Regions from separate parts of the Homo sapiens genome. Here regions 1 and 2 are each linked to region 3. Evidence: fine-mapped expression QTL. A gene starts in region 3. Each other region holds a variant in brackets. All regions are shown on one strand. Distances are from middle to middle.

Region 1 (2,756 bases), 58 kb before region 3:
GCTGCCAGTTTTACTTCTTGCCACCCCTTTGATCACCTTTGGAACAAGCAGGGGCTGTGAAGAGAACAGTCAGGCTCAGGCACCACCATCCCTTGCCTTAGAAGTCTGGGTGTTACTGGGAGGTGCTGACCAAATGGCGTCTGTGTGTTGGGGTGGTGGGGGGGCCTCCCTTCCTGGGGCCTCTCAGGATGGGAGAGGACAGTGCTTTGTGGCGTGAAGGCACTGCGGAAGAGGAACAACGAGCCTACTCCTTGGGAAGCAGATACGACCTGTGGGTCTGTCACACATGGGCAACGAAACCTCTGTGTGTCCTCGCCCCTGGGGCTCACCTGCTGCAGGCCCCATTCATCACCCGAGAGTGAAAGAAAGGACAGAGCACAGCATGGCCAGGTGGGTTCATTGTACAAACAGGACCCAAAACGGAGAGGTCCCGGGGTTTATTTATCAGTCAGGGTCTCGCTCTGTCACCCAGGCAGTGGTGCAAACACTGCTCACTGGAGACTTGACCTCCTGGGCTCAAGCAGTTCTCCTGCCTCAGCCCCCTAAGTAGCTGGAACTTAAAGGCCTGTACCATCATGCCCGGCTAATTTTTTTTTTTCTTTTTTAGATGGAGTCTCGCTCTGTTGCCCAGGCTGGAGTGCAGTGGCGCGATCTCAGCTCACTGCAACCTCTGCCTCCCGGGTTCAAGCGATTCTCGTGCCTCAGCCTCCCAAGTAGCTGGGTTCACAGGTGCTTGCCACTACGTCCAGCTAATTTTTGGTATTTTTAGTAGAGGCAGGGTTTCCTTATGTTGCCCAGGCTGGTCTTGAACTCCTGAGCTCAAGTGATCCACCTGCCTCGGGCTCCCAAAGTGCTAGGATTACAGAAGTGAGTCTCCGCGCCCGGCCTCCGGCTAATTTTTAAAATGTTTTTATTTTTTGTAGAGACAAGGTCTTGCTGTGTTACCCAGGCTGGTCTCAAATTCTTGGCCTCGAGCCATCTTCCTGCCTCAGCCTCCCAGTGTTGAGATTAAGCATGAGCCACTGCACCTGGCGAGATCCTGGGTTCTAAGGAAGACTTCTTGGGGTTCACTGAGGGTGTGGGGTTGTGCTGGGAACTCCACCCTGAACTTTGCACTCCTTAGGCCCATCCTGCCTCCTTCTCTCCTCTGCCGGAGGCCCTGACCCAGGCCTCCACCCACGCTTCGCCTCCAGGGCTGCAGCATGGGGCCCAGACTCCCCTG[C/T]TTCCCCTTCTCGTGGCTATTAAAGGCAAATAAACAGACCCTTTTACAACTCTAGAGGTTTCCTGCCTGTTGTTACGGGGAGCAGGCAGCTGTTAGCAATCAGCAAATGTGGGCAAGTTCCTGAGGTGCCAGAACTGTACAGCGTTCTTATGGGGAGCCCTGCTCCGCAGGCCGCTGCTCCCTTATCTTCAGTCAGCCGGCAGGTTTCCTGATTTCCTTATCTCAGAGCCTACCTTTGGCCAAGGGGACCTTCTCCTCCACAAAACCCAACGTCCCAGTCAGAAATGACAATAAGCCCTTTGGAAGTGATTCAAGCAGAAAAATAAGTGCCGCTTTGTTTCTCTCCAGCGGGTAATTATGTTCCGCCAGGGGATGAGGCCTGAAGAAAGTTTCCTTAGAAACCGAGGCCAGCAGCAGTCTTTCAGGTGTGCGTTCTGGGAGTAAAGGCCAGGAGCTTCTTGGAGGTAACCGGCACTGGCAACGAGCTTGGCAACCTCGATATGGCCAGTGCTATGGAGCCGGAGGAACCAGGAGAAGCTTGCTGTGGAGAGGAGGCACCAGCAGAAGCCACCCCTGGTGCCCACGTCCCCAGCCACAGTGCCTTCCATCCAGGGCTGAGGGCACCACAGTTAACAACGGGAAAGTGAAGGGACTTGGGGAACCCAAGCCCAGTGCTTATGTGTGCTAAACAGTAGGGATAATGAGAGTGTGACAGGAAAATAGAGACTTCCCAATCCTATTTAAAAGGTTGATGGTTTTTATTATCTGATTTTACAGGCTTATTGTGAAAAAATGTGAAAAACCCCAAAGATTAAAATTACTCTTATGTTTACCACATACAGACTACTACTTTTCCATTTTGGGGTTTTCTTCTCAATCCTTTTTTCTAAAATGCATATATATATATATATATATTTTTTTTTTTTCTCACAAAATTGCATCATGCATCAGGCAATGATGTGCCTCGCCAATTTTTGTATCTTTTTAGTGGAGATGGGGTTTCACCATGTTGGCCAGGCTGGTCTTGAACTCCTGCTGGGATTACAGGAGTGAGCCACAGCACCTGGCCTAATTTCCAAATTTTATCAAATTAATGTATGTACATATAGTGTGATAAGCAAGTGCAGTAGTTGAAAGGTTTAAAATAGAACAAGGGGCCGGGCGCTGTGGCTCACGCCTATAATCCCAGCACTTTGGGAGGCCGAGGCAGGCAGATCACCTGAGGTCAGGAGTTCGAGATCAGCCTGGCCAACATGGTGAAACCCTGTTTCTACCAAAAATACAAAAATTAGCTGGGTGTGGTGGCATGCACCTGTAGTCCCAGCTACTTGGGAGGCTGAGGCAGGAGAATCGCTTCAACCTGGGAGGCGGATGTTGCAGTGAGCCAAGATTGTGCTACTGCACTCCAGCCTGGGCAACGGGACGAGACTCTTCTCAAAAAAAAATAAAATAGAATGAGGGCTGGGCGTGGTGGCTCATAGCACTTCGGAAGGCTGAGGTGGGAGGATCCCTTGAGTCCAGGAGAGAACAGTGT
Region 2 (2,756 bases), 44 kb before region 3:
AAATTCTAGCAATCCAAGATGCTCCAGGCACTACTATGTCACGAGAGGTCCCTCACTGCTGTAGCTACAAGTTAGGTTAAAGCCGAAACCCGTGCATCTGGTTACTGGTGCCTGCACCAAGATTCTCCTGTGGCATCTGTGATACCAGCTGCAGCCACAGAGAGTGAACTGTTTTTAAAAATGAACCTCCTGCTATAGAGCTTGCCTATTTTTTTTTTTTTTTTACAAAAATAAATAAAATGAACCTCCAATCATGGTCAGTTGCAGCATATTAACCACCACCACCACCCCCCAAACAACAACAACAACGCACACACACCCCTCGAAAAGATAAAATGAATCTCCAGCTGTTTGACAGCCAGCCACAAGGCAGCCTTCTCAGGACAGCAAGCCCCCGGCTTCTGTGCTGTCCAGGGTGCCTCGGGCTGTAGCAACAGCTTTGGAAACACTTTACCTTTGACACTGTGCTTGCCCTTGGGTAACTTGCTGATATGTGAAGCGTGCTTCAGTTCATACCTATTCAAAAGAGGACAGTCTCAGAAGAGGCCTTCACACTGGGCTCTCGAAACCAACAGTTTGATTAGGAGAATAAGATCAGATACAGAGATGAGATAAAAGTCCACAAAACCCAGACCATCTAAACTGCTCAGGCTCCCTCCTGAGTTTCTGGAACTGTTCCAGAACCTGAAACTGCAGTTGCGGCTGAACATAGTTTGTGCCCAGCGATCACTGCTATGGGGCCATTTTCAAGGCAAGGCCCTATTTGGAGTGGTGGTCAGCAGCTCTAGGTTTCCGTCCACATTCCACAGTCCCCAGACCCCTGGCCTTTTACATGACCTTGTGCTTTTGGTTACAGTTCACAGGACTAGGGTCGATGTCCAAATCAAGCTGGACTAATCAGATCTTTCTCTATGGAGAATCTGGAAGTGGAATTAAAATTCCAGTTCCATTTGGGTTGGTCTAAGAAAACTGAAACACTGGTGAGTGGAGGAGGCGGCCTGGGGGATCATCCTTTGTGCAACTCAATCTCTCTGCTTCCCAGTCCATGGAGAGAAGACACTGCCAGCTCTGGAGGCCTGGCTGCGTTCCTGCCCTTGCATTTCCTGAAGTATCCTTGTATCTCCCTTGTTCCCTTAACTTGAATTGGATTCTGCTACTTATAAGAAAAGAATCCTAATTGGTGCGTCCAGTAACTGCAGTGGGGAATTTCTACTCTCCCAGCCAAGGGGAGTTCTGCCTATAGCCCATTCCACCTGTCCCCATGAAATGCCATCAGTCCCAGAGCCAGGTTTACTCACATGTTTCCAAGGGCAACTTCTCCCAACAGGATTAAGCCTATTGGGTCTCCCTGAGACGTATGGCAGTAGTTGGCACTCTTGGAGACCATGTCAGCGAAATAGATCCCTTTACCAAACATGTAGCCTGTCTGGAAGGTCGGAAAAGGGAGAGCTGAGAATCTTCTGATGGGAAATTAGGAGCAGCTGTTCACTGAGTGCCAACTTGAGCAAGCCACCCAGCTAAGTGCTGCAATCCATCACTTCTAATTCTCACAATGCCCATGGTGAGGAAATACCAAAGTTTTAGCTCACAAGCCAGGCTGTCAGATCCTAGCTCTGCCAGGTGCCAAGGAGCTGCAAGAAGCTACGTAACCTCTCTGGACTCTACTTGCCTCTTTTCTCAAATGGGGAACACAGTCTCATGGAGCTGCCATGAGGACGGAAT[G/A]AGCTCATCAGTGTTACTTAAACTAGCGCCTGTCAACACCCAAGGAATGCAGGCTGGTATTTTTATTCCCTTTTGTAAATGAAACACGAGGTTCACAAAGGGTAGGCCATTTGCCCGTTATACACTACTGCACAGCCCCAGAGAGAATCATTTAAACTTCTCTCCTCCTCATTCTACAACTGTGAAACAAGAGGCTTAGAAGGTCCTGTCCAGGTGGACCCATCTAGAATCCAGCAGGTGGCATCACGATCCCTCGTGTCTAGGTAAAGCCTTACTCATTCATCGCTACGTTTTCCTGCTGAAGACACTGACACTCAGAGGTGGCCCGGCTGGGAAGTGGTAGAGATAAGCCTGGACTCAGCTTGGCCTGTAGCCACGTGTCTGTTCTTTGCTTGTCAACACACCCGATTAGCATCTGCAGCAGGCCCTGGCCTGGATGCTCTGCCTCCTTTGTTCCAGAAACTGTGTTTGAAACCCCTGACAGGGTTAGGGTCAGGAGGATAAAAGGGTGAAGGCCCAAAGAAAGGATGTCTGGCAGAATCCCCCTAAACCAACTAGACCTCTTGCTCAAAGTTCTTTATGGAGACACCTGCAGAGACAGGCATTGCCCACCCCTCGCCAGGCCAGGCACATACCACGGGCGCTTCAGGCGGGGCTATCCGAAGACCCTGGGACAGGATCCCAGCAAAGTTGGTGGTCCTGGACCCGTGCCACAGCAATCTTCGGTTATGAAGCTGCTTAAAGGGCTTGTAACGCTGGCATTCGCCTTCACGCTCTATCTTAAAGATCTGGTTGGAGTAGTAAACAAAGGGAAGGACAAAAGAAGCCATTTGTTACTCTGGTTGACTGAAAGACAGGACTGGATACACGAGAAATGACCGGCTGTCCCTAAGGCTAGAAGACTTAAGGTCTGCTGCAATGTAAAAAGTGTTTTCCACAAGGCTGGGATGGAAGGTCCAGGTCCTGCCCAGCAGCGCCCAGCCATTGCTGGTTAGTATTACTGTGCAGCAGATGTGCACTTGAGGAACTTTATC
Region 3 (2,756 bases):
CTTCCCTATTCTCATCTTTCTGCTCCACTTCTGTGAATTAACGACTCCTAATCAAGCTTCCACCCTTAGCTGGGTCATCTCGGACTCCTAGGCACACAATGCCTAGAGCACAGCTCCATCAGGTGGCATCCATCCTCTCTTACGGTAACGTTTGTTTACCAGTCATTTCCCGTTTAACCAAACTGGAAATTCCCAAAGGTGGATTCTGTGTCCTTAAAACCTAACAGAGTGCTTAGAACTTAAAAAATGCCTACCAAATAAGCACTGTGTGCCACGTACTGACTTAGGTATGCCCCGAGGACACCAAGATGACAGGCATATTGTGAAATAAGATAACGGAAGTACACCTGGCACTTGGGTATCCACTCGGTAAATGTCGCCCTCCCTTGTACTAAGTACTGAAAATCCACTGAGGGATATCTGGTCATTCCTAAAACACATTACAGCTCATGGAAGGGAGGAAAATCAAGCTACCTTGACCATGAGCACTAAGCTTGGGTAATATGTTGGAAGCGAGGAGGAACAGGGCAGATGAGAACCAGAATTATTAATACAAAGGTAGACATCGGCAAACTGGAAGCTGGAGGCAGGAGCCCCTGGGAAATGACAGGGGCCTTCAAGCCCACCACCTCACAGAAGGCTCAGGAAACCTCAGAAGGGGATTCAATCTATCAAAAAGCCCACATGAGAAACCCCCCTGGAGCCACTCTTACTCAAACCAGACAGCTGCAAATGCACCAAGAGAACGCGTCTGTGAATCTGGAAAATTTGGGGAAAATGTTACTTTAAAGCACAAATTAGGCTCAAAGTGAATGTACTGTACAGAAATGACACCTTTCTGCATAGTTCTGCCTAATTAAAATAAAAAATGAGAGTGAGCGTTTAAATGACGTGTTGAAATGACTGCCAAAAATAGGTTTAACAAAAAAAAAAAAAACCCACATGTCAGTCGCCACCATCCATGTAGAACAAAAACCCTCCAGAACAAGATAGGTCAAAATCAGATTAGCTTAAAGAGACCATGTACAATTCCCCCCCAACCCCTGAGGCGAACGGCAGTAATAAAACACCGCCACCCAGAAAGGAGAAGAGAAGAGGCTCCTCGTTTTCACAAAGCGAAAGGCAACACCAGCTGCAGACTTTATTTCCCGGGCTTTTCCTGCAACATCAGCAAAACCTTCCGGAAGGGTCGGCCGGGCCGCTCGGGAGGAGGGGCGGCCGCGGCCCCATAGGCCCCAAGTGCCGCTCCGAGGGCCCGGGCCCGCTCGCTCCCTGGGCCCGCCCTCCCCCAGCCTTCCCGGACACAGTTAACCCGGGGCGCCGCGTCCCCGCCCCGCCGCCCGCACAGCGGCCCGCACCTGCACCATGATGGCCATCCGGAGCGAGTCCTTGGGGATGCTCTCGCTGCATTTCTTGCAAGAGGCGCGCCCGCTCTTGGCGTACTCGACTCGATAGAGCTTATCCGAAGACTCCGCCATCCTCCCCTAGCTGCCGCCAAAGCTCCGGAAGCCCGACGCCACGACCTAGAAACACGCTGCCGCCTCGCCGCCTCGCGTGCGCTCACCCAGCCGCAGGCGCCTGAGCGGCCAGAGCCGCCACCGAACACGCCGCACCGGCCACCGCCGTTCCCTGATAGATTGCTGATGCCTGGCCGCGGGAACGCCCACGGAACCCGCGTCCACGGGGCGGGGCCGGCGGCGCGCGCGCCCCCTGCCGGCCGGGGGGCGGAGTTTCCCGGGCGCCTGCCGGGTGGAGCTCTGCGGGCCGCTGCCCTGGGGGCCGAGGCGGGGCTTGGGCTGAGCTAGTAGCTCTTTGGAGGACCCGGCGCCACCCCTTTGATTGTTCTGTCCCAGGAAGTCTTACTTGATTTCACAACTAATTTTACCCCCAACCCCTCCCCCTTTTATTTTTGAGACTGAGTCTCACCGCGCTGGAGTGCAGTGCCGCCATCATGGCTCACTGCAGTCTGGAACTCCTGAGCCCAGCGATCCTCCCACCTCAGCCTCCCGAGTAGCTGGGACTACAGGCGCTCACCACAACTGGCTAATTAAAAAAAAATTTTTTTTAGGGACAGGGTCTCGCCAAGTTGGCTAGACTGGTCTCAAACTCCTGCTACAAGTGATCTTCACGCCTCAGCCTCCCGAAGTGCTGGGATCAGGGGCATGAGCTACCACGCCGGCCCCAAACTCTTAAGTGTGTCCTCTCTCCCCTGAGGGCAGCTGGGTCCGGGAAGCGCAGGCCCCCGCCTCGGGAATATAGTTGATTGGCCCGAGGTGGACCCTGCAGTGCTAGGTCCACCCTCCTGGCTTGGACGGGCGTTCTAACCTGCCGTCCACAGACCGTCGGGACAAAATACCAACTGAAACCTAGCATTTCCTTTATTATGAATTTGACTACAAATACCAGGAGTATTAGCAGTACCTGTGACTTTGTGGGCAATAGTCATCACAGACGTTTTCATGTTACTTTACAGTTGTTGGTGATAACTCGAAATATTATTAAGCTCATCACTACTCGAAATTGTGGTAATGACTGCACCTGTTGCTATCAGATATTTTGTGTGTGTGTGTGTGTGTGTGTGTAAAGAAAGAGATGGGGAATCTCTCCATGTTGCCCAGGCTGGTCTTGAACCCCTGGCCTCAAGCAATCCTCCCACCTCGACTTCCCAAATTGCTGGGATTACAGGCATGAGCCACTGCACCTGGCCTAGATCTTGTTGTTTAATATAGAACTATACTTCAAAATATAGTTTATTA

Which allele goes with the higher level. Positions count from the first base shown, and alleles are read on the strand shown. Sizes are in standard deviations (SD) of each study's normalised expression.
As copies of T replace C in region 1, the expression in non-classical monocytes of the gene that starts at base 1,642 in region 3 goes down (large effect, 0.89 SD a copy in Schmiedel 2018).
With allele A in place of G in region 2, the expression in left ventricle of the gene that starts at base 1,642 in region 3 is lower (small effect, 0.19 SD a copy in GTEx).

Evidence for each region. PIP is the estimated chance that this variant, and not a neighbour inherited with it, causes the effect.
Region 1: its variant is the best candidate, but not a certain one, in a credible set for the expression of PARP1 in non-classical monocytes (Schmiedel 2018, PIP 0.81).
Region 2: its variant is the best candidate, but not a certain one, in a credible set for the expression of PARP1 in left ventricle (GTEx, PIP 0.89).

The regions. Positions count from the first base shown.
Region 1 is chr1:226,348,945-226,351,700 of GRCh38, forward strand. No RefSeq gene overlaps it. Among named protein-coding and RNA genes, the nearest start is that of LIN9, 41 kb to the left of the region's middle. RefSeq lists an enhancer at 739-1,239. The variant C/T (reference allele first, on the strand shown) is at 1,223.
Region 2 is chr1:226,362,645-226,365,400 of GRCh38, forward strand. PARP1 (poly(ADP-ribose) polymerase 1) reads right to left here. Exons shown (of 23, transcript NM_001618.4): 19 at 2,358-2,510; 20 at 1,299-1,426; 21 at 455-516. Among named protein-coding and RNA genes, the nearest start is that of PARP1, 44 kb to the right of the region's middle. The variant G/A (reference allele first, on the strand shown) is at 1,723.
Region 3 is chr1:226,406,452-226,409,207 of GRCh38, forward strand. It overlaps PARP1 (poly(ADP-ribose) polymerase 1), which reads right to left and starts at 1,642. Exons shown (of 23, transcript NM_001618.4): 1 at 1,359-1,642. The coding sequence starts at 1,478. RefSeq lists enhancers at 207-266, 1,857-1,986, 2,165-2,309, silencers at 1,217-1,316, 1,567-1,826 and a cis regulatory region at 2,237.